2 separate regions of the Homo sapiens genome follow, and region 1 is linked to region 2. Evidence: fine-mapped expression QTL. A gene starts in region 2. The other region holds a variant in brackets. All regions are shown on one strand. Distances are from middle to middle.

Region 1 (16,830 bases), 44 kb after region 2:
TTCAGTGATCACAAGTGAAAGTTTTTGGTTGGTCTTAATGTTGGGAAGAAGGGGGGATAGAAAATAAACATAAGACTTGTCTTAGCTCTGAAGTCAGGATTATTTTTCTAGAATTAATATTAGGCTGATTTTTTTTGAGACTTTTTTTCTCTTTCTGTAATTTTTAATTTTTGTGGATACATAGTAGGTGTGTATATTTATGGGGTACATGAGATATCTTGATACAGGCATGCATGTGTAATAATCATATCGTGGAAAATGGGGTATTCATCCCCTCAAGCATTTAACCTTTGTGTTTGAAACCATCCAATTATTCTTAGTTATTTTAAAATGTACAGTTATTTTGACTAGAGTCACCCTGTTGTGCTATCAATTTTTAAGAGACTCATAAAATACTGGTGGAATGTTTAATATGCATGAATTGAGAAGGACCACTTCTTTTCTACAGGAAAGAGAATCCCGAGAACATCTCCGTTTAGGGTTGTTGGGCCTTCCTGCCCCTAAGAATGATTTTGAAATTGTTCTACCAGAAAATGCCGAGAAGGAGCTGGAAGAACGTGAAATAGATGATACTTACATTGAAGATGCTGCTGATGTGGATGCTCGAAAGCAGGTGGGTAACTGTACTGAAAGAAGCGTGAGTTTGGCTGAATGTGTCAGTAGGCTGGAAGAATGAAGAATAGCCATTAAATGTCCCAAGATCTCTACCTAGTCCTTTTTAATATTGAAAAAACTTCTAAAGTAAATAACTTATGTCATTAATAATGTATCCTCACATAATTAACATACTCACAATATTTTGATGAGCATTCTTAAAAATATATATATGGAAATTTAAATACATTCTGTCAAATTCATTATGCTTCTCTAAAATACACATAGGTAGTCTTTTAGACATTGCTTCAATCTAGCAAAGAAAAGATGTTATTGGTTAGTCTTAAAAACAAATACATCTTGGTTCCTGGGTGGTGCGATGTACGAGCCTGTAGTCTCAGCTGCTCGAGAGGCTGAGGTGGGAGGATTCTTTGGGCCCAGGAGTTTGAATCCAGTCCGGGGAACATAGTAAGACCTCTATCTAAACTGGAGTTGGAAATTTAGATAGAGTGTGTCAAAATAATATTAGTAACACTTTGTACTAATATATCTTATACGTAATTACTTTCTCATTTGCACGTAACAGCACAGTGATATAAATAGGATCGGTATTACAGGTTGAACATTGCTAATCCAAAAATCCAACACCTGAAATGCTCCAAAATTCAAAACTTTTTGAGTGCCGACATGAAGCTCAAAAGAAATGCTCATTGAAGCTTTTTGGATTAGAGTTAGTATAATGCAGATGTTCCAGAATCTGAAAAAATCAGAAATCCAAGATACTCTGGGCCCAGATATTTCTAGTAAGGAATACTCAACAAGCTCAGATGAATTGAGGTCTCATGGTCTCAACTTTCTCAGGTCTCATGGTGGGTAAGTGGTGAATCCTAAACTAGAACTGATATTTTATGACCCCTTTCAGTAGCTGCAGTCCATTGCTGGATGATTTTAGGGACCTTGAATCTCAGGGGATTGGAGTGAGAATGACATCAGTGGAAACAATATTTTAGAGGGGACCCATGTAAATGTGCTTTTCAGTGGGGAACAGAGGATGATACTTTTTGTGTTTAGTTCTCAGCTACTTTGAGTTACATTTACTCCTTCAGAAATGGCATGAAATTTTAATGTGTTATCCCACATTATTCATAAGAATCAGGAAACAATACATTTTTTGGCTGGCTTTTTGAGTTAAAAGTCAGTAATTTTGGAGTGAAAGGGAAGAAAGAGTTTTGTCGTGGGAGTCTCTTTGGAGTTTAGGTTTTCCATTTAGATGAGAAAAGTTTGTTACGTGATATGGATCCATGCAAGTTTGGAGAATGCTCTAGTAGACATTGGAAGCTCTTAGTTTCTATTATAATGAGAGTGAATAGACTGATTCATTTCTGTTGCCTTAGCATTGCCTTTCTACAAACTTAAACCGATTTCTAAACTTTAGCTATTGAACACACATGATCTTACATACCAAAGTGTTTTTAGCTTTACTGAGAGATATCAAATACGCTATAGCTGCAATAAAGGATATAAAAATCATTTTTTAGGCCATACGAGATGCAGAGCGTGTAAAGGAAATGAAACGAATGCATAAAGCTGTCCAGAAAGATCTGCCAAGACCATCAGAAGTAAGTGTTAGAATTTCTGGTTTAGGAAGTTTTAAGTTTCTTTTTATATGATTGCTGCGTTTTACATCATTCATAAAGACTATAAAACAAAATTTCATCTACTTTCTGGAATATAGCAAAGTAGTTCTCAAATCCAATCTTTAAAATGTTTCAGTAGTACCAGAAAGAATTTAGAAGGAAAAAAATGGAAATTGCTTTTGAAAATGTAAAACCGCTGTTTAATTCATGCTGTAACAGGTAATAACATTAATATATTATAGTGATATGTTTGGTAATTGTATTTGTTTTAAAATTTTAGGTAAATGAAACTATTCTAAGACCCTTAAATGTAGAACCGCCTTTAACAGATTTACAGAAAAGTGAAGAACTAATCAAAAAAGAAATGATCACAATGCTTCATTATGACCTTCTACATCACCCTTATGAACCATCTGGAAATAAAAAAGGCAAAACTGTAGGGTTTGGTACCAATAATTCAGAGCACATTACCTATCTGGAACATAATCCTTATGAAAAGTTCTCCAAAGAAGAGCTGAAAAAGGTATGATTGAGCTGGAATATTTCTTCTTGAGATTTAGGTAGTTGTTAGGTGCTGTGTATCATGGACAAATAATGAACTTATTTTTCCCTGTTGGTATTCATAAACAACTGAAATGTATGATTAGGAGATGCATGTTTAGATTAAGTGTTATGAAAAGGACATGCTTTAAATACCTCCATCCCCCGTGTTCAGTGTGATAGACCTTTAGCAAATAAACACCGCCAGGGTGTTTTTGGTTCATGGGTATTAATGGCTTCGTTGACAGTTGTTACAGTTGCCGTTTTCTGTATTCAGCTCTGCTATCTCTGAATAAAAATTAGATGCCTTTAGTACTTAAACATCACTTATTTAGAATAATATGAAGAGGTGAGAGAGACTAATATAAAAATGTTTATAGATTAAACCTTTTAGCTATTGAAAGGAAGGAAGTATTTTTTTTACTGAATATATTCCCCTCACATGATTTCCCCCTACTCTTTTGGATAAGGACATGAAGAAATGATTTCTTATATGAAGTCTGTATCTGGTCTTTTCTTCTACATGCATTTTATTCCTTCTGTTTTGACAGAGCAAACAACTGTGATTGTAAATAGAAATCTCCATAATTGTATAAGAAGATACAGTGGGTCTCATCGTTGGAAGCAGAGTGGTCATTAGCTTAAAAGTCTTTTTTTCTTTAGCCTTCAGCCCTGAGGAGCAGTGATAGACCTATGGATTTGGAATGAGCTGCTGTATACTTAGGATAAAACAAACAAGATTCTTACAAACTCTCCTGTCTTCTCTCCTGCATTCTTCCTCTTTCTTCGCTTTTCACAATTTCTTACTTTGTGTTTTCTTTATTGCATAAGTAATACATTATTTATTATAGGATTTTTAGAAAATAGAGAAAGGAAGGAGGGTTTCGATTTATATTTCAATAACTTGTCCCTGATTTCAGAATAACTGAGTCACTCATTTTTTAGTAAGTGCAGTAGGGAAACTAACATCTGTTGAGTTGCCTACTCTGTCGAGCACATTTAATCATTGAACTGGGATTGAGAATCAGGCTACGAAATTGATACTTGCACAGTTTCCTCTTTTGAAAGTGAAAATATGAGGGGAAGAGGAATTTAGGAAATAAATTTTCCTAAATTGTATGTATGGAAACCTAAAACAAGGATCACATTGTTGCTTTTGGAGATTCTGTAGAGGGTAAACCCTAACACAATTTTTGAAAAATAATAATTCTAAGTATTGGTTTGTAATTGTTTGAAACAAAGTAGCTTAAATATTCTCTCATATTTTATCTGTGTATATCTCTCTTTGTTCCAAAAAGAATTTGAAGCAGCTATTTAGTTAGCAGATTATTTATGGATAGTTTAAAGATAACTTAGCCATATTCTCTCGTAATGATTATAAGATCTGAACTTGTAAATTTTTACTCTGTGCAGTTTCAGAGTGAAATAGCATTTCTCTTTTAATAAACTGTCAGATTTTCTTTTTCTTTAATATACTTTAAGATATGTTAACATTGATTTGTTTCCATTATTTCCCTTAAGGTATTAAGTGTCCATTTTTTCTTCTATAGAGATGATTTTCCGTTTCTTTTGTTAAAATTTTTTGTTTATCAATCATTTCTCTTGATTTTGTAGATTTTGATGTGTTTATTTTCATTATTACTGGAAAGATTGAAAGCCTTCTGTAAGGCACAGAAGGTGGTTCCCAGTTTTTCATAAGCCATGAAGCAAAGGGCTGGGAAAAAATTCATATGCTTATGGAATTCTGTGTGTCTGGCATTGGGCTAGGCTCTATAGTATATTGTTCACTTAATCCTAATAACAAACACATCTGATCTAAGGTCAGCATCATCATTGCTTGGAAAGCTGTTTTTCAGCTTTCCAGGCTGAAAAAGCCCTGAGAAATGGGCTCAGATAAATTAAGCAAGCTCAAAGAGCTGCTTCAATGGTAAAGCTGTGATCTGAACCCAGGCCTGTCCAGCTTTCCCTCTCATTCTGTCATTTTACACTATTTTCTTTAGTAGTGAACTAAACTGGTTTATGATCTATCATCTAATTCGTGCCCCAGTCTCATTATCTGGCAATGTCAGGGCATTCCTTCAGGATGAGAAAAATGCCATGTGACAAAAAGATGCCTAGCTCCCCTTTACCATCACGTGAGGTCCTGCACACATGGTGGAGTGGGAGAGTGGAAGGGGCACACCCAGTGGTGCCATTTGTATTCTGCCTCATCTGCCTACTAACGATGTGGTCTTAACAAGTGGTTGAATCTCTATGAGCCTTAGTTTCATTAGCTTTTTTTTTTTTTTTTTTTTTTTTGAGACTGAGTCTCACTCTGTTGCACAGGCTGGGGTGCAGTGGCACGATCCCAGCTCACTGCAGCCTCCACCTCCTGGGTTCAAGGGATTCTTGTGCCTCAGCCTCCTGAGTAGCTAGGATTACAGGCATGTGCCACTACGTCCTACTAATTTTTACATTTTTAGTAGACACGAGGTTTTGCTGTGTTAACCAGGCTAGTCTTGAACTCCTGGCCTCGTTATCCGCCCACCTCAGCCTCCCGAAGTGCTGGGATCATAGGAGGGAGCCACCGTGCCTGGCCAAATTTCATTAGCTTTTAAATGAGGTTAATATTGGCTAATTTGTAAGGTGATTATGATCTTTGGATATAATGTAGGTAAAACTTTTAAACCTAGTTTCTCACACACACAATAGGTACCTGAGAAATGATAGCTGCTGTTATAGTGAGTGAAAGCAAAGGATGTTTATACTTTTGAGGAAACATGGATGCTTGATTTTTAAAAAGCAGTCTGCATTGACTCAAAGGCTTCTTAAGCTATTTTTCCTAGGTATTGTTATCCACCCTTCCAAAAAACAACCAACCACATCTTGGATTTGACTCAAGGCATGAGGGAAAAAATTAGTCTTCTAAAGCTCTCTGGATATGGCAAGTGTTTGTAGTACTTAAACTTATTGAAATTATTATTGTAAACAGGCCCAGGATGTTTTGGTGCAGGAGATGGAAGTGGTTAAACAAGGAATGAGCCATGGAGAGCTCTCAAGTGAAGCTTATAACCAGGTGTGGGAAGAATGCTACAGTCAAGTTTTATATCTTCCTGGGCAGAGCCGCTACACACGGGCCAATCTGGCTAGTAAAAAGGACAGAATTGAATCACTTGAAAAGAGGCTCGAGGTTGGTATCCTTTTAAAATTTTAATTTTAAATGTACTTTGATTGAGATAATGAACTAAATAATGCCACTGGAGACAATGTCAGAAAAACACACCTGAGGTGCTTATTGCCTTTTTAGTTGTTGGAGAAAACTACACTTAAGTGTTGGATCTTCTTGGCCTTGTTCATTGTTTTTTTTTGTTTGTTTTGTTTTTGTTTTTTTTTTAAAGAATTGTTGGCCTTCATGACTAAAGAGTGCCCTGCAAGTTGACCAGAGGTCAATCAGAACCTTTAGATGTGGGAGCAAGGAGCCAAGAAGCCAATACTAGTCACTCAGAACAGGCAGGTCATTGCTAGCATAGCCTGTTTTCTCTGAAGAGGAATCTCAGCAGTAACGAGGAGTTTTCTTTTTATAACAAAGAGAGTACATTTACAAAACTTAAATACAATTCTGTTCATCCTTGGATTACTGTGAGTTTGAGTTAGGGAGGGCAGAGCTGGATTATCTAGTTAGTGGCTTCCATGATTTTTCATGTCTGTGAAAATGTTGAAAACATACTAGATGCAGTTTCAGGACATGTGGTTTCTTAATATAGTTTGCATATTTTGAATTCCAGAATCTGTGTAGGCATTTTGCCAATGGCATGTAAATTGTGGTTCACAGACCACCAGGCTGCCTTGTGCATTCTTTTTTTTTTTTTTTGAGACCTAGTCTCAGTCTGTTGCCAGGCTGCAGTGCAGTGGTGCAATCTTGGCTCACTCCAACCTCTACCTCCTGGTTTCAAGCGATTCTCCTGCCTCAGCCTCCCTAGTAGCTGGGACTACAGGCACGCCCCACCACGCCCAGTTAATTTTTGTATTTTTAGTAGAGACAGAGTTTCACCATGTTGGCCAGGATGGTCTTGATCTCTTGACCTCGTGATCCACCCATCTCAGCCTCCCAAAGTGCTGGGATTACAGGCGTGAGCCACCATGCCCGGCTATGCCTTGTGCATTTTTAATGGTAATCTTTAGGGGCATTTCTAAGGCCAAGGTGGGATGGGAGAGAAGGGGTACTTCAGGCAGTCATATACAGAAAATCGTCTTGGTTTCCTCTTTTATGTGATTACCAGTTTCTCTTTACAAAAAGTGCATTTGAAAATATTTTTATTTAGGGTTAAAGCCAGAAGTAGTAAAATCACTTGGGGTGGTTGGGGCTGTATGGGGCTGAGGAAATGAGCAGGAAAAAGCAGTATCTTTTAATTTGAGTTATTCTGAGTTTTAATTTAACCATTAAGATCACATATATATAGGTAGCTGATGGTTAATGCCTGTGAACCTCTTTTTTTCTCAGTGAGAAATGACTGGTTCTGAAGTAATTCTCATCTTGGGTAAAATCTTAGTTCAGTGCTGCTAATTATTTGTATTACCAACTTCCAGCAGGGTGTGCTGTTGCTCTGTGTTGTGGTTCAGTGTTAAAGCCAGGGAAAATAGAACATCAGTGGTTAAATTGTAAGTTACATTTTTTTGTTGTGTAGGCTTCATTTCTTATAAATGGTAGTTAGCAGTGTAATTGTGATCTAATATCAGCATCATCACTGATTGAAAAGCTATTTGGAAAGCTTCTTTGTATTATTTATATATAAATACTTAGGTTTCTTACTTAGTATGAAAATCTTCTCATTTGAGGTGGGTAAACTCTTTTTGCCGCAAATGGCAAGAACATTTTGTGCTTTTTTAAATGGTAGAAAATTTTTTTCTCCCTAAATCTCATTTACTTTGTTGAGGTACTAACTTTCATGACAGCAAATAAATGTGTCACACAGTGAGTGGTGCCATAAAGTACAGTAATTTTTATTTCTGTGTTGAATTGGTCTTATGAATTTTAAAGGGAAAAATACAGAAAGAGCCACTCCTGTTCTTTTGGAGATTTATTTGGGTCGTTTATGAGCAACCATTAAAAACATGTGGTTCTCTTTGTTCAGTTCAGTACCAGGAACTGAAATCTTCCGTTGAACTATTTTTGTTGAAGGATTGGTGATTTTGGAGAATATTCATAAAGCAGTCTGAAGTCATTTTTCTTTTCTTGACTCTTGGATAACTTACTTTATTGTTTACCCAGCTAGTTACTTTTAAAGAATACTTAATCAAGTCCTTTAATTTGGTAAACTGTGCTTATTTCAAATGAAAGTTCATGAAATCTTTTAAAAAAAGAAAAGCAGCTCAAAGACTTGAATAAACAAACCCCCATTTTATTTGTATCCATCACTAATTCAGAACTAGGTTTCTTTTAGCTTGTTTTAGTTTTTGAAGACACAGTTCTATTGGTTTGAAATACATAAATATTTTATTTCAATTGTGGTAATTCTTTCATTTCAGTTGATTGCTAAATTATAAACATTATTCAAAGTTTGTTGTGGGGAAGGAACTCCAGTTATATTGTATAAACTAAATGCTATACTTAAATTATCCTTTCCACTCTTAGGTTCAGGAGATAAGCCCTTCTCTGTAAGCACTGTATGCCATGGCTGCCAGTGTGTTTGATTTTTGCTGCCATGAACTTTGGAACCGTGAATCTAAATTATGGCCCTATCACTGCCTATCAAGCAAGATGAAGTCCAGCTTTGTCGTGGCTGGTGTCTCCTGAATGGATTAAAAAAAAAAAATGCCCTGAGGTTTATATTGGAGGTAGTCTTTGAGCCATTCATTACTCATGATTAATATTTGAAACTTAGCACTTAAGTGAAAATCCTTAAGATACTCATTTAAAACTAATAGAACCATCTCAGATTTTATGTAGAATGTGGTAGAGGATGTGTGTGTGCAAGGAGTTTGTTAAATAAATAGAATCAGAATGCAGTTACAGGTCAGAAATAAGTGGAAAAGACTTCTGAATTGTAACCAAGTCCATGTATTTTATTCTGCTTTGGAGGCAGAATTGAGTTTAGAACCTTGCCAGACTTTTGTGTGTAAAATAAGACAGCAAGAGCAAACACAGCAATGACAGTTAATATAAGGAAAGGAAAAGTTATGAGAGCATACCATGCTGTGTCCATTTTTACATGGTGGCAAAAAGCCCAGTGTATTTTAATAGCTTTAAAGACACTAAGATACATTGCAGGGGAGTAAAGTGATTGCTATTTATAGTGGTATCCCAAATTAATAAGAAAAACTTTATTTCTTTTCAGTGTCATGTTTTTTTAAAAGGGCGGGATGGCTATAATTCAGTGTAGGAAACATTTTCACAAATGGTTAAAAATAAAAGAGCTTTAGTACTTTTATTTATTCACACATTCAGTAATTATTACTGCCTATCTACCA[C/T]GTACTGGATACTGTTCTAGGTCCTGGGGATAACAGCAAGGAACAAGGCAGACAAGTTCTCTGTGTTTGTGGGCTTCAGTTACCTGGAAAATGCTTAATGTGTGGAGAACCTCGTTTTCTGATGATGCCAGATAAATGAGTCATTACTGTATTTGGGAAGTGCAAATAGAATTTTAAGTGTTCTAATTTGTTTCTACTTTAAGTGGAAATAGGAAATCATCTGAAGACATAATTATTTTGAGTGAAATAATTTCCAGTGGGTGCAAAAGTGAAATGAGAAGTCTGAATTTAGGCATGCCGTTAAATTTAATAGTATTTGAAATAGTATCTAAACTGCTGTGTTGAGGAAGTTTGGCTGAAAAGTGGATTTTGTCACGTTAGCTGTAAAAATGGAAAGGCTTTCCTTAGAGATAGAAAATAGGTCCAGAAGTAATACTACTTCTCCCTGTAATTTACTGGCACAGTCAACTGTAGTCAAGAAATATTATATAACATAGACTTCTTAGAAGTAAAGTAACTTAAAGAACACAGATAACACACTTAAAATCCTTCTCAGTGTACTTGTAGCTCTTATGAGGACCCCTGACTTGTCTGAAGGTTATATTTCTGCAAAATTGGCTGCACAGTAGATCTCATTTTCTCAGTGATTTTCATTATAAAGTCAGATATTTTTACACAGGAAAAAATTTCCTTAATACTTTAAAGAGGGAAAACTTAGGGCAAGGATTTAGTTAGTAGACAGTTCTGGGTAGAGTGCTATATGTTGTCAGATATCAGCAGGTTTATGCTTATGTTGCCTTGTGTAGAGGTGGGGGAAGTGACTTGTGGTACAGGAGAGGAATTCACAGTACTTTGGAATACTCTCTCTTTCCCAAATTCTGTTCTTTGCTATGACCCTTATAGGCACTGACAGATTTCGTAGTTGTCTCTGGTAAGAACTTTATGAGCTGGAACAGACATCCTGATACAACCAGGTTGCTTCTGTTATGCCTCAACATGAATTGAATTTGTTTTATGCAGTTTACGTATTTCACTTCCTAATGTATGCAGATGTACAGTGCTCTTGTATTGCTTTGTTCATGTATTACTGTCCTTATAAAGGTTTTTAGTAAGGTTTTGCCTTCCTGGTTAGCATGCTTTTCAGGGATGCAATCTGATGGTTGCTAACTCATAGATGCAAACAATAATTACTTTCTTGGACCTGCGTCTCATCAGAGTAGAGAAGGTTCACTGATAAAAATGCTGGTAATTGGTATAGAGATTAAAGGAGAATCACTCATAGACTCCTGTTGTTTGCAAATGTTTTGGTGATTGAACCACATCTTGACTATTATATGGGATCATATTGCTGATTGATGGACTGGGAAGTGGAGCTCCCATTGACTGCCTGTTTATTTTGGGTATCCTTAAACCTGTTTTTCCAGTGGTATAAGGTTATATTCTGGGCCCCCAAGCAAGAGTTTCAGTGAGGGGTGCTCTTAATGTTTCTGAACCTCACTGTAACGGACTTTTACTGAAGACAGTATTGGAGACCCAAGGATAATGTGTTTATTTTGGAATTACTTAAGCTTAGTAACCTTAACAAACTTAGCTTGAAAGTAACAGTTACACTTTCATAAGTCCCATACAGCTCCCTTTTGTAATGACCCGAGGAAACACTTATGGTTCCACTGATTCATCTCCTGGGGACCATCAGTTTTCCATTGGTCTCTGGCCAGTCTTTTTTAGACAGTTTCTCTTCTATGCATTTAAAAAAATAACATTTCTAGGCGTCTTTCTATAAATAATACCTGTGCTTTGTAGAAGTTTTAAAAGAAGTAGAAAACATAAGAAAAGGAACCTACTATCCAGACATAATCACCTTAAACATTGTGGTGTATATATGCACCCCGCCCCCCCTGCCCCCACATACTCCCATATATCTTTTTTTTTTTTTTAAATGTTTGGATGAAGGTGTTTAAAACTAAACTGGGATCATATTCTACATTTTTCATTTAATAGTTGTAAATATGATTAAACACTAGTTATATTCCACCCTACTTCTAAAAAGGTGGTAAGTGGAACCTTTTTTTCTGTATAATTTTTTTGAGAGATATTTGTTTTCTTATAGTTTTATAGCTTGTTAATAAAAGAATTTAGAATTTTAAAATACAAACTGAGGAAAGTAAAAGCTTTTCTCAGGTGTCAAAATTCTTATAAGTGGGTACATGTAGGTGAGAGTCTAAATCAGGGTAAGAATGATGGGCAGAATTGCTAATTAAGGTCTTATTTCTTGTTTACATGTGTCTAGAATAATTTATTTTTCAGGGAGCTGTCTGGTGAAATTTAAGCCATTCATTTCCACAGCTTAAATTTTTTCAGGCATGTTTGCATTTCAGGGGGCTGAGCCAAGGAGGGGGACAGTCAGTTTATTAGCAGTGGTGTGACCAGTGTATTGGACTTTCAAATAGGGCACAACTGCATGGCATCGTCCCCTGGTGGCTGTGGCCTAGGGCAAGCCACAAAGCCACTCAGTGATGATGCCAGCAGTTGTGCCCTACTTAACCTCTCTGGGTCTCACATTTCCTTATCTGTAAAATTGGGTGAGTAATAGTTTTTGTTTTTTTTTTTTGAGATGGAATTTTGTTCCTGTTGCCCAGGCTGAGTGCAATGGCACGATCTTGGCTCGCTGCAACCTCTGCCTCCAGGGTTCAAGCAATTCTCTTGCCTCAGCCTCCCAAGTAGCTGAGATTACAGGTGCCTGCCACCACGCTCGGCTAATTTTTGTATTTTAGTAGAGACGGGTTTCACCATGGGTCAGGCTGGTCTTGAACTCCTGACCTCAAGTGATCCACCCACCTTGGCCTCCCAAAGTGCTGGGATTACAGGTGTGAGCCACCGTGCCCAGCCGAGTAATTGTTTTTATTTGATGGAAGCATGAGTTTGAGATAATATAAGATTAAATGAGATACTGTATGATTAGCAAATAGCAGGTGTTAGTAAATGGGAATTCTCCTCCCATGTGTCTTCAAGTCTATATCACCCTTAGAGTTACCTAAATTGGATTATACTTGGTTTGATACTATGAGGTATTAGGAACTAACCTCACTTTAAACAATCGGGTGGCTAAGTTTTTATATTCTGTAAATTTTGAGGAATGTCTGAAGTTTTAGACATGGGCTGATTTTAGGAGAGAGATTGTTGTACTGAGTGAAGCTTAAAACTCAGATTTTGGTTAGCGTAAATAGATTTTACATCGTGGATTTTAATCTAACATTTCATGTATACATTTTGGTGTGTTGAAATAGTTGACATATTTGTAAATTTTAATGTCTCATTATATTTCACTACATTGATGTTTCATGATTTGTGGTGTATGGTCTTGAGAAAGTAGCCTTTAGAGTAGATACAATATTGAATTTGACTTTTAAAAAATCTTATAAGAATTTTCAAATGTACCCCAGAGTATACTGGTATAATAAATCCTCATGTATTCTCACCCAGCTATGACAGTCATCAATCATAGCCACTCTTGTTTCCCCTGTTATCCCCCCTTCCACTATTATTTTGAAGCAAATTTTAGATACCGTATTATGAAATAGAATTACGGTGCGTGAAATTTGTCAGCTTGGCCTTCCTACCGATTTGTATGTGGATATATTCTTAATTTCCTGCTTTGAATTGAAGTTTACCCTTTCATATTTGATCAAGTCAGCTTTAATTGTATCAAGTGTCGGTCTACTTTAAATTCCTATCAGTGATAGTGAACTTCATTTTATTTAAGACTATTAGAAATTTTTTGTCAGTACATATTTAAAGCACAGTGTGGTGGCTTCTAAAGTAAGGTGTCCATCAGGGCAGTTGCTAGTGCTTGTTTTAAAAAATTAATTTAGAAATCTGACTGGTTAAATCTGAGTCTGATTTTCCCTTTTTCTTTGAATTTTAGGAAATAAAGTTTTATACTCTCTTGTACCTCAGTGTTGTTTCTGTGTGTGGATGGGTGTTGGGAGGAGCTGGGCTGATTTAAGCTAGTCCTGTCCCTGTATGCATGTACATTTCATGCTTGAGGTTTATTGGCTTGAAAAAGACCAGAAACTGTAGGTTAGGATTTTTCCTCTTAAAGCATATTGAGCAGTCATAGGTTGAGCATTTTACAAAGCATGCAGATACCCTCCTTTGTGTTTTAATAATCAAATGACAGGCGTAAGATAACTAAGTTCAACTTGAATATTAAAAGCTGTAGTCCATTTCTTCTTTATATGTTTAATGACTATATAGTTATTTGGCTAAATTAATTTTTTTCTGTGCTTAAGTTAATTTTTGTACAATTTATGTCCATATTTGCTTGGAACCTTAGCGCAATATTTGAGCCAGAAGACTTGCAAAGCTTGAGCTAAATGAAATAAAATTGTTGGCATTAAAGGAAAGCTAACAACTTTGAAGTTTTAAAATCTCTGATGGTTTGAGTATAAGAAATGACTCCATTGGATGAGGTGAGGTAATTCCAAGATACAGGGTACTGATAATACTAAACGTACCTTGATGACTAATTAAGCAGTTTCTGAGTATAGGTATTATGCTGTAAAACCAAACTGGAAATGGACTATCCATGGAGCATAGTGTATAGCTGAGTTATCAATGAAAATGTTAATTCGTATGATTAATTTTTAAAAAGCATTATATGTATTAATTTGAAATTCTTTGCTGTTAAGGTTTTGGAATGTGTGTTTGAATCCAAATGTGATTGGAGTATGTAATAATGGGTATTCTTAGAACATGCTGAATTGTTTTACTTTTTTGGAGACAGGGTCTTTCTCTGTTGACCAGGCTGGAGTGCAGTGGCGCGATCATGGCTCACTGCTGCCTCCAACCTCTCAGGCTTGGGTGATTCCCGCCTCAGTCTCCCAAGTAGCTGGAACCACAGGCATGTGCCACTATGTCTGGCTAATTTTTGTATTTTTTGAGAGACAGTGTTTCACTCTATTGTCCAGGTTGGTCTCGAACTCCTGGGCTCAAGCGATCCACCTGCCTTGGCCTCCCAAAGTGCTAGGATTACAGGTGTGAACCACTGTTGCCTGGCTGAACATGTTAAATTATAGAAGAAGGAACTTGAATGTAACTTGATGGATTTAGTTGTTCATATCTTATTGGAAATGAGGACTTTTTGGTAGATATAGTTGAGAAAACAACTGATACCTAGCTTGTGTAATGACTCTGGCTGAAACAGAGTTTGACATCCTAATTGCCTGTTAGAATCATTTGGGAGTTTTTAAGGACACAAAGATCTGAGACCATTTAAATCAGAGTCTCTGGAGTTAGGGCACTGGTGCTGGTAGATTTTAAAAACTCCACTGGCAATTCTGAAGTTTAGCTGTGGTTGAAAACCACTGGCGTAAAAAGACATACTCCAGAAATATTTGAAGTGGAAGAGAGTGAGTACAAATTATTGTCTTCTTTCCTTGATGGTGTTGTAAAATTTATGTGGTGGAAGTTTTGTCTTTTTTTTTTTTTTTTTTTTTTAAACTCTAACTCCATCCCACTACTGCCTTTCTAGAACTTAGAAAGTACTGCTTTTGATTTCTGGGGAAAAGTATTTTTGCATTTTGTATCCAGAAGAATTGAAGATGAGGAATTTTTTTTTCTCCTGTGGAGGTAATGTTTCTACTCCTTGTATACCTTATTTTTATAATATCCTTACTGAGATATAAATTACATACCATAAAGTTAAGACAATTTAAAGTGTATAGTTCAGTGGCTTTTAGTAAATTGACATAGTTGTGCAACCATTATTGGAACATTTACATCACCTCAGAAAGAGATTCTGTATCAGCAGTTACTCCTCATTCCCCCCAACCTGCTCACCCCTAGGAAACCATTAATCTACTTTTTGTATCAATAGATTTGCCTATTTTGGATATTTCACATAAGTGGAATCATGTAATATGTGGTCTTTTGTGATGGGCTTCTTTTACTTAACATAATGTTTTCAAAGTTCATCCATGTAGTAGTATATATTAGTATTTGTTTTTATGGCTGAGTACCATTCCATTGTGTGGATAATACCACATTTTATTTATCCATTTATCAGTTGATGGATATTTGGGTTGCTTCTACTTTTACCTATTATGAATAATGTTGCTATGAACATTCGTGTACAGGTTTTCGTGTGGACATGTTTTCATTTCTCTTGGGAAATACTGGGAGTGGAATTACTTAGATACTTCCTTCACCTCATTTGAACTTCAGGGTTAGAAAATCTTCCCATAGAGTTGGGAAGCACCGCGAGTCCATGTTCTAACGCTATTTTTACACTGTAGGACAGAGGTCCAGTGTGTGTTGTTTGGTCTTGTGGTCCACAAGGGGCAAACTCCTCACTTAAAAGAAGGACCAGCTGTTTTTCCTTGCTGTGTTTCCAGGAAAGGGTCCACATAGACTTATATTGAAGTTGGAATTTTAATGAAGCTTTTAAAGCCTCATCCTTTTACTCCCTTAGTTGTTAGGGAAAAGAGCAAAATGTTTGAACTCTTAGTATCTGGAAAATAATAATGGTAATCAGACCTGACATTTGTTGACTGCTTATTCTGTGCCAGGCACTGGACAGCTGAGGCTTTTTATGTCTATGATCTTATTTAAGCTTCATAACAACTTGTAGCAATGACTGCCATTTTACTGATGGAGAAATGGAGACACATAGGTTAAATAACTTGCATCAGCTCAAAACAGCTGGGCAGCAATGCTGGGTTGTAAGAGTGACTCACTCTTACCCCGCTGTACTGTACTGCCTGCCTTCAACCAGTATATCCTAACTCCCTTAGGAGACATATAATCATTGCCATGGAACTTGGTTTGATTTATCAGAGGTTCATTTATAAAGGAAATTAACAGTTTTCATGAATTTATTGTTCAAGTAAATTGCAGAGGAATAAAAGCTTAACTTTTATAAAAATCTGAAGAAATGAATGGTTTTAAAGGAGCTTCTTCATTTAAATTAATTTTAGATCCATCTCATGTTTGTAAGGCACATAACATGCAGTGTTACTCGCCTGCCTCCACCTCCCATGGGCTTGACTTAGACTTTTTTTTTTTTTTTTTGAGATGGAATCTTGCTCTGTTGCTCAGGCTGGAGTGCAGTCGCCTGATCTTGGCTCATTGCAACCTCCGCCTCCTGGGTGTAAGTGATTCTCCTGTCTCAGCCTCCCGAGTAGCTGGGACTACAGGTATGCACCACCATGCCTGGCTAAATTTTGTATTTTTAGTAGAGATGGGGGTTTTGTCATGTTGGCCAGGCTGGTCTCGAACTCCTGACCTCAGGTGATCTGCCCACCGTGGCCTTCCAAAGTGCTGGGATTACAGTTGTGAGCCACTGCACCTGGCCATATTTTTAAAAGTTCTATTTTAATTGACAAATAATAATTGCATATGTTTATGGAGTAAGATGTGATTTTTTCCATACACATATGTGAAGTGATTAAATCAGCTAATTAACATATTAATCCCCTCAAATACATACCACTTCTTTGTGGAGAGAATATTTAAAATCCTTTTTTTTTTTTTTTTTGCTATGGAGTCTTGCTGTGTTGTCCAGGCTGGAGTGCAGTGGTGTGATCTAGGTTCACTGCAACCTCTGCCTCCT
Region 2 (16,830 bases):
CATAGCTGTTCCAGCTTTTGCTTCTTTCCAGCTAGAAAGAGGTTGAACCTGTTAGATGTAAAGATCCCCTTCACCTCACTGTAGGGTCTTTGGTAAATAAAAACATGTGGGTGCAGAGGTGTGTGTGTGTTCAATTCTTACTTTCAATAACTGAAGTTCAATAGAAATAAACTATATGTGAAACTTTACAAGTAAATTTCTTAGTGTGCAATTTTATATTGCACAGAGGTATTCTAATTTTGGATCCTGGGATAAATGAAAAATGACCTCTGTGGACATGAAGAAACATTGTATTATTCAGCTAGTGGCACCAACGTTCGAATTAGTGATCTCTGAACTCCAAGTTACCAAAATGTTAAGATAGTAGGATATTAAACTTCTAAAATTCCACAAGGAATTTAGGAATATACTGTAGGATTCCACTAATTGTCCACATTTCTAATACGAGGCACTCAGTTTGGTTAGTTTTGTTTTGTTCTTAGGCATTTTGGTCTCAAAATCTAGGCAGGTAAACACATTGTTTACAGGACTTGACTTGGTGAAGTATTTTAGAGTTGGAGTCCTTCAAGATCATGTCTCTGTCCTAAAGAGGCTTTTCTTTCCTGGCTGGGAAATCAGGAGAGAGTACTTGGGTATATAATTACCTCTACCCAGAACTGAGCCACATGCCTGATGCAGGATGGCGCACCTTTTTACGGGGTCTACGAGCCAAGTTCCCGGCACACTCTGGGAGAGGATGTGGGAGCCCATTTGAGATGACTGGTGTCCTTCCCATGCTGGGGAGCCCCAAGAGGTACTGTGGCCTGATGCCACCCTCAGGAATGGGGAGGCCACTACTGACTCACCTGGGAGCCAACACTGAGGCTCCTAAATCCAGGCTATAACACTTACATGAAAAGTAAACATTTTGTGGTGTGCATGAAGGGTCCTAGCCTTATATCAAACAAGCAGCCAAAATATCCCAATGTCTTATTTTCTGAGGAAATGTGTCTGCCTCCACCAAATGTGGTGTGGGGGCAGCAGACGGATCCAGCTTCCAGTGGTGAAGCTGTGAGCAAGGGTATGCTTATCTGGCTAGAAATGTGTTCTTTTGTCTGAGCACAGTTTGGGCTGGAGTAAAAGTTGGGATTCTGTTAGACAGAATGGATTTAGGGGCATAGTTATACTAAATATTGTTTGTTCTTTATTTAAAATTCATTTAAATGGGAGCTCTGCATTTTTTTTTTTTTTTTTGAGATGGAGTGTCGCTCTGTCGCCCAGGCTGGAGTGCAGTGGCGCCATCTCGGCTCCCTGCAAGCTCTGCCTCCCGGGTTCACGCCATTCTCCTGCCTCAGCCTCCCAAGTAGCTGGGACTACAGGCACCCGCCACCACACCCGGCTAATTTTTTTGTTTTTTTAGTAGAGACGGGGTTTCACCGTGTTAGCCAGGATGGTCTTGATCTCCTGACCTTGTGATCCGCCCGCCTCAGCCTCCCAAAGTGCTGGGATTACAGGTGTGAGCCACTGCGCCCGGCCGAGCTCTGCATTTTTATTTGTCAGAACTGGCAACTTATAGTGCAGGTGGCACAAAGGAGATAGATTTGAGGACTAAGTAGGAGGTCAAGGTGGTGAGACTCTGGGATGACTTGGGAATGGGTGGGGTAAAAATATACGAGAAGGAGAAATGGCAACTGGATGGATGATGGTGTAGTTGCCAGGGCCATCTGGACCTCATGTAGCATCTTTGTACAACTAGAGAATGATGCCCTCTTGGTGGACACAGCCCTGTGGATGCACAGCTTAGTGAGCTGTGTGCAAGCTGGATTTAAATCCCCATGTCCTTGTTGTGCAGTGAACTTCTTACACAACCATATGCAGCAGCCTTGTGCTATTTGCTGAAATGAGGCATGCTGGGGAAGTACAGATTTTTTGGCAGGAGGTCAATGTTGGGCAATTTGACATTGAGGAACTTGTGACACTGGTGGAACTATCTAGGGTGTAGTCGGGCATATAAATCTGGGGTCTGGATATACGCATGTGAAAAATAAAGTCCCCTGTGAGAAATGTATATTCTAAGCCTGTGACATGTAGATGCAGGGGCTAGATATAAATTACACAATTGGAATATCCATCCCAAACTGAGCAACGAGCTCAAAAAGACCCTCAAACCTCAGGGCCTGAGCAAAAGCAAATTCTCCTTGGGATCATTTCTCCACTTCAGGGCACAGGGGACTCCCTAGAGAACACCCACAAAGGTGAACCCTGAGAAAGAACTATAAAACCACAACTGGATCCACCACAAGGAATTGTCAATGGATGAAACTCAAGCCAATTTAGGTGATGTTTTCAGCAATACAACATGAATTATCAGGATTTAGGATGCTTGGAAATCATTTTGTAGCAACTTGACACCAGGACATTAGCTTTTCCCAATGCTGGTTGAGGAATTTCTAAATGGGAAGGAGGGGCTTATGGATGGCAATCTGGTGGATGGGTTGGGCTAGAGGACCTGTCTTGAAATGATATCATCATGCAATGCATAACGACATTTTGATCAACTCTAAACTGCATATATGATGGTGGTCCCATAAGATTATAATTCCATATTTTTACTGTATCTTTTCTTTATTTTTTATTGTTTTGCAAATGTCTTTTAACAATTATTAGAAGACATTTTACTGATAAATGTTTTTACTGTACCTTTTCTGTATTTAGATACACAAATGCCATTGTGTTACAATTGCCTATGGTATTCAGTACAGTAACATGCTGTACAGGTTTGTAGCCTAGGAGCAAAGGGTTATATATACCATATGGCCTAGGTGTGTAATAGACTACTGCATCTAGATTTGGTGTGAGTACATTTTGTGATGTTCTCACAACAGTGAAATCACCTAACGATGCGTTTCTCAGAATGTATCCCTGTCATTGACACATGACTGCATTTGCAAAGCAGGACAGTATTTTTATTTAAATTATTATGCATGTTTATTTGGGGAGATGATGAAGATTGTGAGAGTCATTAATCCTGCCTCTAAACTATGCCTTGCTGTTGCCATAGGCTTTTGCCCCTAATTTTAGCCCTTTCCTGCATAGTTTCTTGGTGGTGAAAAAACTGGATGAAAGGGAAACTAGAATTTTGATTACTTTCTCTGCTAAGTAAATGTCAATCCATTCAGAACCAGCTACCCAGAGAGGGGTGAGGGGTAGGGAAATGGGGACAATGCAACCTAAAAATCCTCCTGCTAACATCTCTGGTTCCCCTTTGTAAGTTGGATGGACTTCTAACCTCTTTTTCCTGAGCCAGAGTTTCCCAAATTGTGTTTCCTGAGTGTCAATGGATATATAACACAAAAGGTTTTTAGGGTCAAATTAGTTTGGAAATGCTATATAGTAAGTCCTCATTTTTATCATTGTTAGGTTTTTGGAAACTGCAACTTTAAGCAAAAGGATGTATCATGTAATCAATTTTACCATAGGCTAATTGATATAAACAAGAGTTAAGTTTCTATGGCATATTTCTGGTCACAAAACATCAACGAACTTCTAAACAAAGACCAAAACACTTCTAATATTAAACATTGAAATAAGTGTAAGCTATGCATACATTTAAGAAAGATTAGGCTGGGCACGGTGGCTCATACCTGTAATTTCAGCACCTTGGGAGGTCAAGGGGGGCAGATCACTTGAGCTCAGGAGTTTGAGACCAGCCTGGGCAACATGGTGAAACCCCATTTCTACAAAAAAATACAAAACTTAGCCAGGCATGGGGGTGCACGCCTGTAGTCCCAGCTACTCGGGAGGCTGAAGTTGGAAGATTGCTTGAGCCAGTGGGGTGGGGGTCAAGGCTGCAGTGACCCGAGACTGTGGCACTGCACTCCAGCCTGCACAGAGTGAGACTCTGTCTCAAAGAAAAGAAAAGAAAAGAAAGATTAATAAAAACAAGAAATGTACTCCCGCTTATTCCAGTTCAGGGTTACAGGTGGCCGGAGCCTATCCTGGCACAAGGCAGGAATCAGTTCTGGACAGCACACAGGACACCATCCCATTGCAGGGCACACTCACACACCCTGACACTCACTCAGACTGCAGGCTTGCAAATGAACCTCACCTGCACAGCTTTGGGATGTGGGAGGAAACCAGGGTATCTGGAAGAAACCCACACAGACAGTGGCCCTGGCCTCAAGCGGATTTTTTTTTTTTTTTGAGATGAGGTCTCGCCCAGGGTGGAGTGCAGTGGTGTGATCATGGCTCACTGCAGCCTCGACCACCCAGGCTCAAGTGATCCTCCCATCTCAGCCTCATGGGTAGCTGGGATCACAGGTGTGCACCACCATGCCCAGCTAATTTTTAATATTTTTGTAGGGATGGGGTCTCACTATGTTGCTCAGGCTGGTCTCAAACTCCTGGGCTCAAGCAATCCTCCTGCCTTGGCCTCCCCGAGTGTTGGAATTACGGGCATGAGCCACCATGCCTGGACTCATCAATGTTATCATGAAACGATCTTGCACAAAATGATGTTATTCAAGGATCTGCTGTATTAACAAAGGAGTGTATTAGCTTCCTAGGGCTGCCACAAGAAAGCACAATAAACTAAGTGGCTTAAAACAAGAGAAATGTATTCTCTTACAGTTCTGGAGGCTGGGAGTCCAAAATCAAAGTGTCAGCAGGGCTGGCTCCTTCTTGGGGCTCAGAGGGAGAATGTGTTCCATGCCTTCTCCTGGCTTCTGGTGGCTGCCAGAATCCTTGGCATTCCTTGGCTTGGAGCTGCATCACTCCAATCTCTGCCTCTTTCTTCCCATGATATTCCCCCTGTGTGTCTGTATCTTTTTTCTTCTCCACTTATAAGGACACTACTCATTGGATTTAGGGACAACCTACTCCAGTATGATCTCATTTTAACTTGATTACATCTGCAAAGACTCTATTTCCAAATAAGGTCACATTTACAGGTAGCAGGGGTTAGGACTTGAACATATCTATTTGGGGGGAATACAATTCAACTCTCAACAGGGAGAAACAGATTTTTTCATCTGACAGCTTCTTACAGGCTTTAATTTCAGTGACTCTGCAAGAGGGGAGGACATAAAAACCATGTTTTTTTTTATTTTTTGTTTTTTTTTAAATGGAGTATTTTATGTAACTGGTGTTCTAAGGAACATGTTTGGGGAAAAATGCCTTGGGTGAGTGAGACTATTTAGCAGTGGCCACTCACTTTACCAAAGATTCACAGTGACTGACCATATAGTCTGGTTGCCTAACGATAGATGCTTCTTATGGCTGTCCCTCAAGAGATTGTTGGCAGTCCCTGTGGCCTCTTTGTAAGGGTTCCCATACCTGGCTGGTGAGGCTGCAGTAGTATGGTGGGGGAGGCTGGCCAAGCAGGCCATCCTGGAGAACAGTGTGTTTGTGTTCTGATGTTTGTGGCTACAGTGCTCTGGTTTCAGACATCCTGGAACTTCCATGATGTTGCATTTTTCTGAATTCTGAAAGGGAATATACAATCTGCATGTTCAAAGGTGAAATGAGGGACAGTTGACAGGGCTGTTTTACCTGGATGAGTAAGTTGTACAATGCATGTCTCTAGGGGTGGAATTCACATAGTGGAGATGGTAGATCCAATTTTCTTGTAATAGAGTGCCCTGTTCTCAGAACACCAGTATTTTGTGACAATTTTCCAGCATGTGGCATAAAGTGTCTTGAGGAAGGGGCACCTTTTTCTAGTTCTCACAAAAGTAACATATGGTAAAGAGGTGGCCCTGAGTGGGAGGGAGAAGCCTTCATCAACTCTTGGAATGTGAGATCTGAAAGGCCTCTGACAGAGTATTGGTCCATCTCTGGAATTGTTAGGACTCTTCCTTACAAATAATAGAAACCCAATTCCAAGTGGCTAACACAAATAGGAAACTAATAATCAGAATGCAAGGACAGGAATGCAGCTGGGACTCAGGAACATGCTGGATCCAGGTACTCTGACATGGTCAGGACTTACATCTCTCTCTTTACCTGCTTTTTTCCCTTAGTCCAAAACATGGTGGTAGACAACTCCTGGGTGTCACGTGTTGGATGTTCAGCAGTCAGTAGAGACTGACCTCCTCTATGCTCCAGTGTTAAAATCTCGAAGACCTAGTATTTGATAGCACAACAGGGTGACTATAGTAAAAAATAATTTAATTGTACATTTAAATTAACTAAAAGATTATAATTGGATTGTTTGTAAAACAAAAGATAAACACTTGAGATGATGGATACCCCATTTACCCTGATGTGATTATTATGTGTTGTATGCCAGTATCAAAATATCTCATGTACCCCATAAATATGTGTGTACTATGTACCCACAAAAATTAAATATAACAAATTAAAAAAAAACCGCCCCATTACAGGAGAGGTCCAAATGAAAACATTTTGTTTGAGTTTAACTGGCCACAGGTCCAATGGTTTCTTATACACCACACAGTGGGTAAACAGCTCAAGGGCGGGCTGCCCGCCAGCATAAACCTTTGAGTGGCAAACACTACCAGGGTGGCCATGGAAAATGCCCTCTTGCTGACCATAATTGCACAGAATGTGTGTAAATAAAAGCTAAAAGGAAAAAGAAAATTCTGTAGCTCTTCCAGAAGAGGCAAACGGAGAAATGAAGAAATATAAAGAGATAGGCACTATATAAATACTAAGTACTATAAATAGGGCATTTCCCAACCCACTAAATATTTTGATATTTTCCAGGGATGGAGCCAGAGATGTTCTGGAAGGATGAAGGAGACTGCATGAGTAATTGGGGTGGGGTAGCAGAGAGTTTGCCAATCCCTACCTCACTGGGTTTTAGTTATGTTTCAGTTAATCTGCCTCCTCATTTACGAGGCGGGTATTGTTAGCTCCACTTTTCAGATGAGGATACTGAGATTCAGTAAGGTTATTACCCAAACTTATGAGAAAGCCAAGATTTCACAATATTTCAACCCAACTCGACTTTGTCTAATACCAGTGCGTACCAATGGCATTATTAATCCAGACTGGGCGATGAATTAAAAACTCTGACGTGACGTTTCTGCAGGTTTCTGGAAGAAGCCTGGATCACCTGGGGACGGGGTGAAGTTGGCGTTGCCCTCCTTGCAGTAATAGCTGCTATTGTTTTGCAGCAGTTATTATGGATCAGATACTGTGCTGGGTCTATGATCTCATTTAGCCCTTACGACAATCCTGTGAGGTTGGCATTACTATGATCTCTATTTTACAGGTTAGGAAACTGAGCCTTAAATAAACTACTGGATTTTCCTGAGTATTCTGTGAATAAATTCCTATTACTGAAATACTTGAAAGGGCTAGATTAATAAATTAACAAAGCCTTCTTCGGAGCAACTGTGCTGAAATTCCGTACGCGTGACGTTCCCACCCTCTGCCACTCGGTGACGTCACGATCAATCCCACCACTAAGTTCCCAGCCAAGCGCTACCGCCGCTATCTCGCGAGAGCCGTAGTTTCTTCCATTCTGTTTTGGACATGCGCGGGGCGTAAGGCGCTTTGGCCAGAGTGGTTTGATGGTTTTGTGTTAGTCTTCCTGCAGCTGAGCTTCCACAAGACACTTTTTCCCTTTCAGCCACCCAATATCTCGCGAGACTTGCTATTCTGCGCCCCCTCCCACCTTGCGCTTGCGCAGATCTTCAAAGCAGAAGGTCGCGCTTGGAGGAAGTGGCGGCTTTGAGTCCGGTGGCCCAATCGCTGTTACTACTTCTCTGAAGCTCCTCTCGGCTGCTTGCCGAGACACCCTGCCGCCAAGATGCCTCGAATTATGATCAAGGGGGGCGTATGGAGGAATACCGAGGTAAGTCTCCTTTTCCCGCCGTCCGCTGCCCGCCGCTCCCTCTAGCAGCTTGTGCGCACGCGCGCGGAGGTCGGGGGGGCGACGAGGAGACCCTGTGGGGTCTGCGTGGAGGGCAGCCCGGGGGCTGACCCTTGGGGCCCTTTCCGTGTGTCTGGCCCCGTGTTGTGCGAGCGCCAGTAGGACAGGGACCGTGATGTCACCACCTGGCTACTCGGCTCCAAGCTCACTTGTTAGGCCCTGAGTGAACATTTGTTGACTTGAATACGCCCCCTCCCACCCCGCCCCCCCGCCCCCCCCGGCCCCGGGAAGAACTCAGAGTTCCAACTCAGCCAGAGTTGGTCCCCCGGGGCACCATCCACTCTTAGTCCAGGCACCACGACTCTGTCTCATACTCAGAAATAAAGAAGTTGCCGTGGCCACAACTTTGTGTCTCCATTGACTTCCTTGCAGAGGGGAAGCAGTTTGAGTGCCAGGTTCAGAGAGCCCGTTTATGCCCGCATCTCTCTGGTTATCTGTTATCAGGGCATAACCTGTCTGCCATCTCGACAGATCCCAAGGTCTGTCTCTTTCTGTCACTGCCTTTGCCTAGATAGAAGCCAGAAAGGAAAAACTGGCCTAGGATAGTCTCTGTTTCCAGAAACGTAGTGGATAGTGCCATTGGTGAGCCAAAGGGCAGTAGAGTGGGAGTGAAATAGAAATTAGATTTTAGTGCGTTTTGTGTTCAGAGTGTACCGAATTTATCAGTTTCTGGAGCACATCATGTCTTTTCATGCTCTGTGTCTTTTTTTCGTTACATTTTATGGCTTCTTTTTTTTTTTTTTTTTACATCTTTTGCCTTCCTAGCGCTTGACATCTTTCTGATCATCCTTCAAACCTAGTTCGGAAACACTTCTTGGAATCTCTGTAAGAATTAATTGCACCCCCGATATTCTCATGATACCTTTTTCTTCCGTTTGTTAAAACTTGCTTTGTCTTTTTGTAAGCATCACATCCTCTGTGTGGTACTCGGTAAGTTTCTTAACTTCTGAAAGCCTCAGTTTTCTACTTTTTCTAAATTGGGATAATAATACTTAACCTCTCTTGAGGATTACACGAGTTAATACGTTTGGAATATTTAGATCAGAGTAGGGCACATAGTAGCCTCTGAGTAAGAGCTAGTTGCTCTTTCACCTCACCAGACAGCATGGCGAGAGGACCAGGTCTTGGTATCCCTAGGACCTAGGACAGTAACCAACATGAAGTAGGTTGCTCGACAGGTATTTGCAGAATGAATCAAGTAGAGTAGGTATCTGCTGTATCTATTTAATTGAAAATGTGTTTAAGTGTAGTTGTACTGCAACCAAGTTACAAAAAAGACAATGAAAACTGCCTCAGCTTCCACCGAGGGAACCAGACTGTTTAAATTGGAGAAGAGATGACTTCTGAGGGAGAGACAGATATAAAATCAAGTAACAGTAGGATTCCTATGCAGTGGTCAAAGCTCTGCAGTCTTTTTAAAAAGTATCTTTGATCATGGGAGATGTAGAGGATGGAGTGGGGTATCTCAAGAGGCACGTACCTCAAATCCAATGTGGGAAAAAAAGCCTAGAAGTAAAATCGCCTAAGTGCATGCATCTATGGCTCCATTAACTTTCTTGTCTTTGGCTTGGCTTGCCAGGCTTCCTTGAGGTTGGTGCATTCCACATGGCAATGGGTGCCCTGGTGAAATGGTATCTAGAGATGGGGGGAAATTGGAAGGAGAGCTGACTAGTGGGGTTGGGGTAGAAATATGTAATTCTTAGGTTAGACCTGAGATGTGGATTCTTGGGTCATAGTTGGGGTTAAGGGGCTGGAGGGGAAATGCCATGTATAAACTTGAGACAGGAGGCTTGGATTGGAGAATATATTCACCAGAGTCCCAACTTGCTTCTTGAGGCCTGGATATGTCCTGTTTGATAAGACCTTTCCCCAAGGGAAAGGTAGATGTTTCAAGGTAGATGTTCAGGAAGTGTTTTTTGAGTGAGTGTATAAATGAATGAGTTATACATTTTTGTTGTTGTTGTGTTTTTTAGTTATCCTTTTTGAAGAGAAGGACAGCCACACGTTGAAGAATACTTTTTCTTAATTTTTGTCATAAAGTAGGGTTTCTCAGATTGGGCTGTTCCCACTCCCAATTTATTGGAGAGTGTGGTGTAAGGGTGGGTAGCTGTCTTTCTAAGGGATTTCTTCTTAATTTCTCAATTCTTGGTTGCTGTTATTATAGTTAATGAGGTTTTCATCCTTAGTCTTTTAACCTAGGTGGTGTGTATGTGCATGTTATATGTCTCTTTCTCCAATAGCCCTATCAGAGTTAATTTAAATTTTGTCTTTTCCCACTTGGAGTTTTGTGACTGAATGTACTCTTTGGCAATTTTTTTTAGGATGAAATTCTGAAAGCAGCGGTAATGAAATATGGGAAAAATCAGTGGTCTAGGATTGCCTCATTGCTGCATAGAAAATCAGCAAAGCAGTGCAAAGCCAGATGGTATGTATCAGTTTAATAAGTGGAAAACAGAAAAGGAGCTTAATTATGATGATGGAAAATGTCAACTCTGTGAACCTTATCAAAGAAAGCAGACATTGTAATATAACAAGGCATGGAGTGGGAGATGGAAGTTGGGTGTTTGACTTAGCTGTCACTTGCTTCCTGTGTGGTCTTAGGCAAGCCATTTTTCTATCCCTCTCCCCTGCCCTTGTTTTCTCCCAATTAGGGATAATAATACTTGGTCCTGACTGATAGAGATGTGAGTTGTCATCTAAATGGGTTAATGTATTTGAGAGTGCTTTGTGAAGCATACAAAGTCTACTTTCAGGGACAGATGAGCCCCAGCTTGTAAATTAATTGTGTTCTAAAAGTGCATAAGTTAGCTGTTTTAGAAATTACTTGCTCAAAGAAATAAATGATAAATAATGGCTAATTTTCTAAGTAAGCCTACAGTAGTTGAGTTTCCTCATAATACAGTTGAAATATTATATATTTTATAGTTAATATGTTATATATTATATATTAAACATACTTAATGTTATATATTATATATTAAACATATTTAATATGTTATATATTATATATTAAACATATTTAATATGTTATATATTATATATTAAACATATTTAATATGTTATATATTATATATTAAACATATTTAATATGTTATATATTATATATTAAACATATTTAATATGTTATATATTATATATTAAACATTTAATATGTTATATATTATATATTAAACATATTTAATATGTTATATATTATATATTAAACATATTTAATATGTTATATATTGTATATATTAAACATATTTAATATGTTATATATATTAAAAGATATAAGCCAACTCTGAACCTGTGGTGTCACCTCTTTTTTATTTTTATTTTTTGGGACGGAGTCTTGCTCTGTCGCCCAGGCTGGAGTGCAGTGGCGTGATCTCAGCTCACTGCAAGCTTTGCCTCCCGGGTTCACGCCATTCTTCTGCCATAGCCTCCTGAGTAGCTGGGACTACAGGCTCCTGCCACCATTCCCGGCTAATTTTTTGTATTTTTAGTAGAGACGGAGTTTCGCCGTGTTAGCCAGGATGGTCTTGATCTCCTGACCTCGTGATCCATCCACCTCGGCCTCCCAGAGTGCTGGGATTACAGGCGTGAGCCACCGCGCCCGGCTGGTGTCACCTCTTAAATCATAGGGTAGTGGACACGTGAAGCTATTTAGGGTGTTCTTGGCATGAGTTATTTAGCACCATCCCCAAGTCATGTGGCATTAGGAAAATACTTTGGATTGTATAAGAATGACCTAATTTCCTAGGCACCTGGTTAGGGGAAAGTATCAGAATGTAGAAATTGGCCAGGCGTGGTGGCTCACATCTGTAAGCCTAGCACTTCGGGAGGCCAAGGCTGGGATCACCTGAGGTCAGGAGTTTGAGACCAGCCTGGCCAACATGGTGAAAACCCCGTCTCTTCTAAAAGTACAAAAATTAGCCAGGCGTGGTGGCTACTTGGGAGGCTGAGGTGGGAGGATCGGTTGAACCCAGGAGGTGGAGGTTGTAGTGAGCTGAGATGCTGCCACTGCACTCCAGCCTGGGCGACAGAGTGAGGCTTTTTGAATGTAGAAATTGGCTGTTAAGAGGAAGATGATTTTTAGGCTGAAGAAGTCGTTCTGATTTCTGTTTGTCTTAGTGGTACCAGTTCCTGCTGTCATATTTGGTAGGACTTAAGTCCTGTTTGCCTGCCTGTCATCCAGCTAAGTAGACTGGATGGAAAAGGTGGGCTGGGTGGGGAATTAGGAAAGACAGAGGGAATGTCATAGTAGTTTTACTTAAATTTTAAAACATATCAAATGAAAGGTTACGGTGAATTTAGTGAGTGTAAGTCAAATGCTTAAAGAAATAAGCCATGGTGTGAGAATCAAAGCATGAGAAAATAGTATGAAAACTGGAAACACTGTAAGAAACGTGATTTTGTATTGTCTTCCAAATATTTCAAAATTTCTAGAAAAGCGTAAATAAATAAAAACATGATAGATGAGAAAGAAGGCTTATGATCATGATTCAGTGAAGTAACCTTTTTTAACCATTACTAATCTTGCATAATTAAAATAAAATAGAATGTGATGAGATGGGGAATATTGACTGGGGTAAGTGTAACCACACAGCAAATATTCTGTTGTCAAAAAGAACAGTTTTTGTAATTGAAGGATGAGAGCACAAGTCAGTGTATCCATTGTGCAAATTGGATATTTATGCCAGGTAACTGATTAATATATAAAATGATCTATGTTTAATAGGTATGAATGGCTGGATCCAAGCATTAAGAAGACAGAATGGTCCAGAGAAGAAGAGGAAAAACTCTTGCACTTGGCCAAGTTGATGCCAACTCAGTGGAGGACCATTGCTCCAATCATTGGAAGAACAGCGGCCCAGTGCTTAGAACACTATGAATTTCTTCTGTAAGTGAGTCTTCAGAAAGAGCATAGAATATATGTATATGTTCTGAAAGAGGCTGAATAAACTTTGAGTATTTTCTGTCTTTAAACTTTTAATTATGGATGTGAGTAAACCCAAAGCTAAAGCCATTGGATAATATTTTCCATATCTCAGATGGTTGATCAAAATTATGCCTTCTGTCATATACTTCCTAAAATAATAATTTAAAAGAATTATACAAGTCATGCATGTTCATCATAGAAAATCTGGGGAAAAAATAGTAAAAGAGCAAATAAAAGTCACCCATAATCACACTGCTAAGAATTAACTACTGGAACATTTTGGTTCTTTACTAATAGTTTTTTTTTTTTTTTTTTTTTTTTTAAATTTGTATGGCTGTACCGCATTTGTGATTAGGATCTGTTTGGGTTCTATTTTAGAGTGATTGAAACCAGTCACTGAAATCAGCAAATTTTAATATCATTTCTTTCAGATGAAGTGATAGTAAAAAGGCTTTATGTTGTTAAAGCCCATCCATTGGTTTTTTTGGGGGGAAAAATATCGTCAGAACTTGGAAATCTGGTAATTTTAACTCTAAATGGTACTGTAGTGTGACTAACTCCTATGGGCTTTTTTCTAGGGATAAAGCTGCCCAAAGAGACAATGAAGAGGAAACAACAGATGATCCACGAAAACTTAAACCTGGAGAAATAGATCCAAATCCAGAAACAAAACCAGCGCGGCCTGATCCAATTGATATGGATGAGGGTAAGTGTATGCTTTGAGGAATTTATTTCTTTGGTAACTGTAAACTCCTTGGGCCTCACTCTTTTAGTTCCTTTCTGAACTCCTCTACTTTAGAATCCCTTTTTTTTTTGAGACAAGGTCTTGCTCTGTTACCCAGGCTGGAATGAAGTGGCACAATCATGGTTCACTGCGGTTTTGACCTCCTGGGCTTAAGCAATCCTCCCATCTCAGCCTCCTGAGTAGTTGGGACTACAGGTTTATGCCGCCATACCTGGCTAATTTTTAAATTTTTTTGTAGAGATGGGGTCTCCCTGTGTTACCCAGGCTGGTCTCAAACTCCTGGGCTTAAGCTATCCTCCCTTTTCTGCCTCCAAAAGTGTTGAGATTATAGGTGTGAGCCACCATACCTGATCCCCAATTCTGTCAGCAGTGTTCTTATTCTAAGTATCTTTCCAAATATGTCCAGTGTTTTCTGTTATAGAGTAGTTGCTTTTTCTGAACAGCGCCCCTTCATCTTCTGTTTCTTCAATTCAGTTAATTAAGTTAATTAAGTGTTACGGGGTGTGGTGGTATGTGCCTGTAGTGCTAGCTGCTAAGGAAGTTGAGGTGGGTCGATCTCTTTAGCCCAGGAGTTGGAGGCCAGTCTGGGCAACATAACCCCTTGAGCCCAGAAGTTGGAGGCCAGCCTGGGCAGCATAACGAGACCCTGTCTTTAAAACTGAGTAGTGTAATTCTACTGAGTAGATTTTTCAGAGGCTAGAGGTGAGCCCTTGAAGATCCTGTTTCTCATTCCTATTCCATGGAGAGAGACATCAAGTCAGAATATTGGACCTCAGTCCTCCTATTAATTACTTATTTGACTATAGGCAAGTTATTTATTCTGTGTGAGAAGGCAACCTGTGAGACGGTGATGGAGACTTAACAGTGATTCTGGGAGGCATTGAATCAGGAATTCCACAATAGAAAGTATATGGAATCAACCTAAGTGTCCATTAATGGGTGAATGGATAAAGAAAATGTGGACTGGGCATGGTGGCTCACGCCTGTAATCCCAGCACGTTGGGAGGCTGAGGTGGGCAGATCACTTGAGCCCAGGAGTTCAAGATCAGCCTGGCCAACATGGTGAAACCCTGCCTCTATAAAAAAATACAAAAATTAGCCAGGTGTGGTGGCGCATGCCTGTAGATCCAGCTACTGGGGAGGCTGAGGTGGGAGAATCACTTGAGCCCGGGAGGCTGGGTTTGCCATGAGCTGAGATCAAGCACTGCACTCCAGCCTGGGCAACAGAGCAGGACCCTGTCTCAAAAAAAAAAAAAAAAAAAAAAAAAAAAAATGGTATACACACACACACACACACACACACACACGAATACTATTTGGTCATAAAAAGCAATGAAATCATGTCATTTGCAGCAACATGGATGGCAGTAGAAGTCATTATGTTCAGTGAAATAAGCCAGGCACAGAGAGACAAATACTGCATATTCTTCCTCATATGTGGGAGCTAAAAGCGTTGATCTCATGGAGTTAGAATAGAGTGATAGATGCCAGAGGCTGGGTATGGTGTGTGGGTGGGAGAGCGGGATTAAGAGAGGTTGGTTAATGGGTACAAACGTAGATGGAAAGAAATAAGTTATAATGTTTGATAGCAGAATAGGGTGACTATAGTTAGCAACAGTGTATTACATATTTCAAAGTAGCTGGAAGAGAGGTCTGAAATAAATACTCAAGGTGATGGGTACCCCAGATATACTGACTTGATCATTACACATTCTATGCATGTAACAAACTCTCACATGTACCCTATAAATATGTAAAGTATGATGTATCAGTTAACAGAATCAGGAATTGGATTTTCAACCCGTGTGTGCCACCTATTAGCTGTTTGACCTTAGACAAGTCATAAAATCTCTCTGAGCTTTGATTCCCTTTCTTGCGAGATGGGGAATACTAATACCTGCTTTACCTTAGCAGGGTTGTTGTGAAGCACTCAGTGAATATTTGTTAAGTTTCTAAAATGTAAAGTTTGAACATAGTGGTTCCCAAAGGCAGGCTGTGGCTAGGCTGGCTGCATCATTATCACAGGGGGAGCATTTAAAAATAGAAATATCAGGGCTTCTCCTGTATATACTGAGTCAGTACATCTGGGGTGGTGTGGGAGGCACGGGAAGAGCAGTGATCTTGGAATCTGAGTATTTTACAAGTTCCCATGTGATTTAGTTGGACAGCCTTGCATAGGAATTGTTCTAAGGCATCAATAGTGGCATGTATTATTCCATTCTATAGAGCCACGAAAAATGTATTGGATGAGAGAAATTGTTCTGAGGGGAAAAAAAAGTATCTAATGATAGTTGTTCTCTCATAATTAAATAGTTTTTACCCTATTTCACAATTTGTGCTGTGCCAGTTAGTTGATAATAATGAAGGATACAATAATTGTAGCCACTGTTTAATGAATGCTTGCGAGATGCTTTACATATTTCGTTTTACTTAGCCCTTCTCAAAATCCTTGTGAAATAGGAATTGTTATTCGAATTTTATAGGGAAACCATGCTTAGGGAGGGTAAGTAAGTGACTAAGGTCACATAGCTAGCAAGTGGTGGGCCTGGTTTTTAACCTAGGTTCTTTGACTTCAAAACTCAAGCTGTTTCCATTATGCTACACCATAAAATCAGTATTTTTATGTTTTTTTCTCATTTTGAGCAATAGAGTGTCTCTTACATACCTTGCTTCTAGAGTATGTAAGAACTAAGAAAATACTTAGTTTTTCTTCTTTTAATTTTTGCAGATGAACTTGAGATGCTTTCTGAAGCCAGAGCCCGCTTGGCTAATACTCAGGGAAAGAAGGCCAAGAGGAAAGCAAGAGAGAAACAATTGGAAGAAGCAAGGTATGTGTGGATATAGGAATAAAAAGCAAAGTGTTTTTCTCACATAACAATCAACACAGAATACTTCTGTGACCAGATATGTGGTTTTTTTTTTTTTTTCCCCTCTCCACCAGCAATCAGGCAATCAATTCTGCAGTGGATAGCTGGGTGTCCTCTAATTCAGTTAACTCTAATACTGTCTACCTGGAGATAGCTCCAGATCTTACAGGTTGAGGACTTAGTCCCACAAGACTGAACCCCAGTTTTGATGCTGACCCTAAACCCCAGGTTATTTTGCTTGTGTTTCTGACCAGCGAGCTGGGTTCCACTGCCCCTTCCTTGGGTTCCATTCATCTGCTAGAGGACTCACAGAACTCAGGGAAACACCCACATTTACAAAGGATATTTTAAAGGATACAAATCAACGGCCCCATGAAGAGATACACAGGGTGAAGCCTGGAAGGGTCCTGAGTGC

The links. PIP is the estimated chance that this variant, and not a neighbour inherited with it, causes the effect.
Region 1: its variant is fine-mapped to the expression of CDC5L in whole blood (TOPMed, PIP 0.92).

What each region holds. Positions count from the first base shown.
Region 1 is chr6:44,423,971-44,440,800 of GRCh38, forward strand. It overlaps CDC5L (cell division cycle 5 like), which reads left to right. Exons shown (of 16, transcript NM_001253.4): 11 at 449-613; 12 at 2,133-2,213; 13 at 2,512-2,754; 14 at 5,743-5,940. MIR4642 (microRNA 4642) reads left to right here and starts at 11,671; the gene lies at 11,671-11,752. The variant C/T (reference allele first, on the strand shown) is at 9,219.
Region 2 is chr6:44,380,065-44,396,894 of GRCh38, forward strand. CDC5L (cell division cycle 5 like) reads left to right here and starts at 7,642. Exons shown (of 16, transcript NM_001253.4): 1 at 7,642-7,804; 2 at 10,204-10,307; 3 at 12,603-12,764; 4 at 13,382-13,509; 5 at 16,277-16,376. The coding sequence starts at 7,760. LOC124901323 (a long non-coding RNA gene) reads right to left here and starts at 7,855. Exons shown (of 4, transcript XR_007059595.1): 1 at 6,975-7,855; 2 at 5,986-6,105; 3 at 5,317-5,465; 4 at 4,498-5,047. It overlaps SPATS1 (spermatogenesis associated serine rich 1), which reads left to right. Exons shown (of 9, transcript NM_001372081.1): 9 at 1-115. RefSeq lists an enhancer at 7,524-7,723.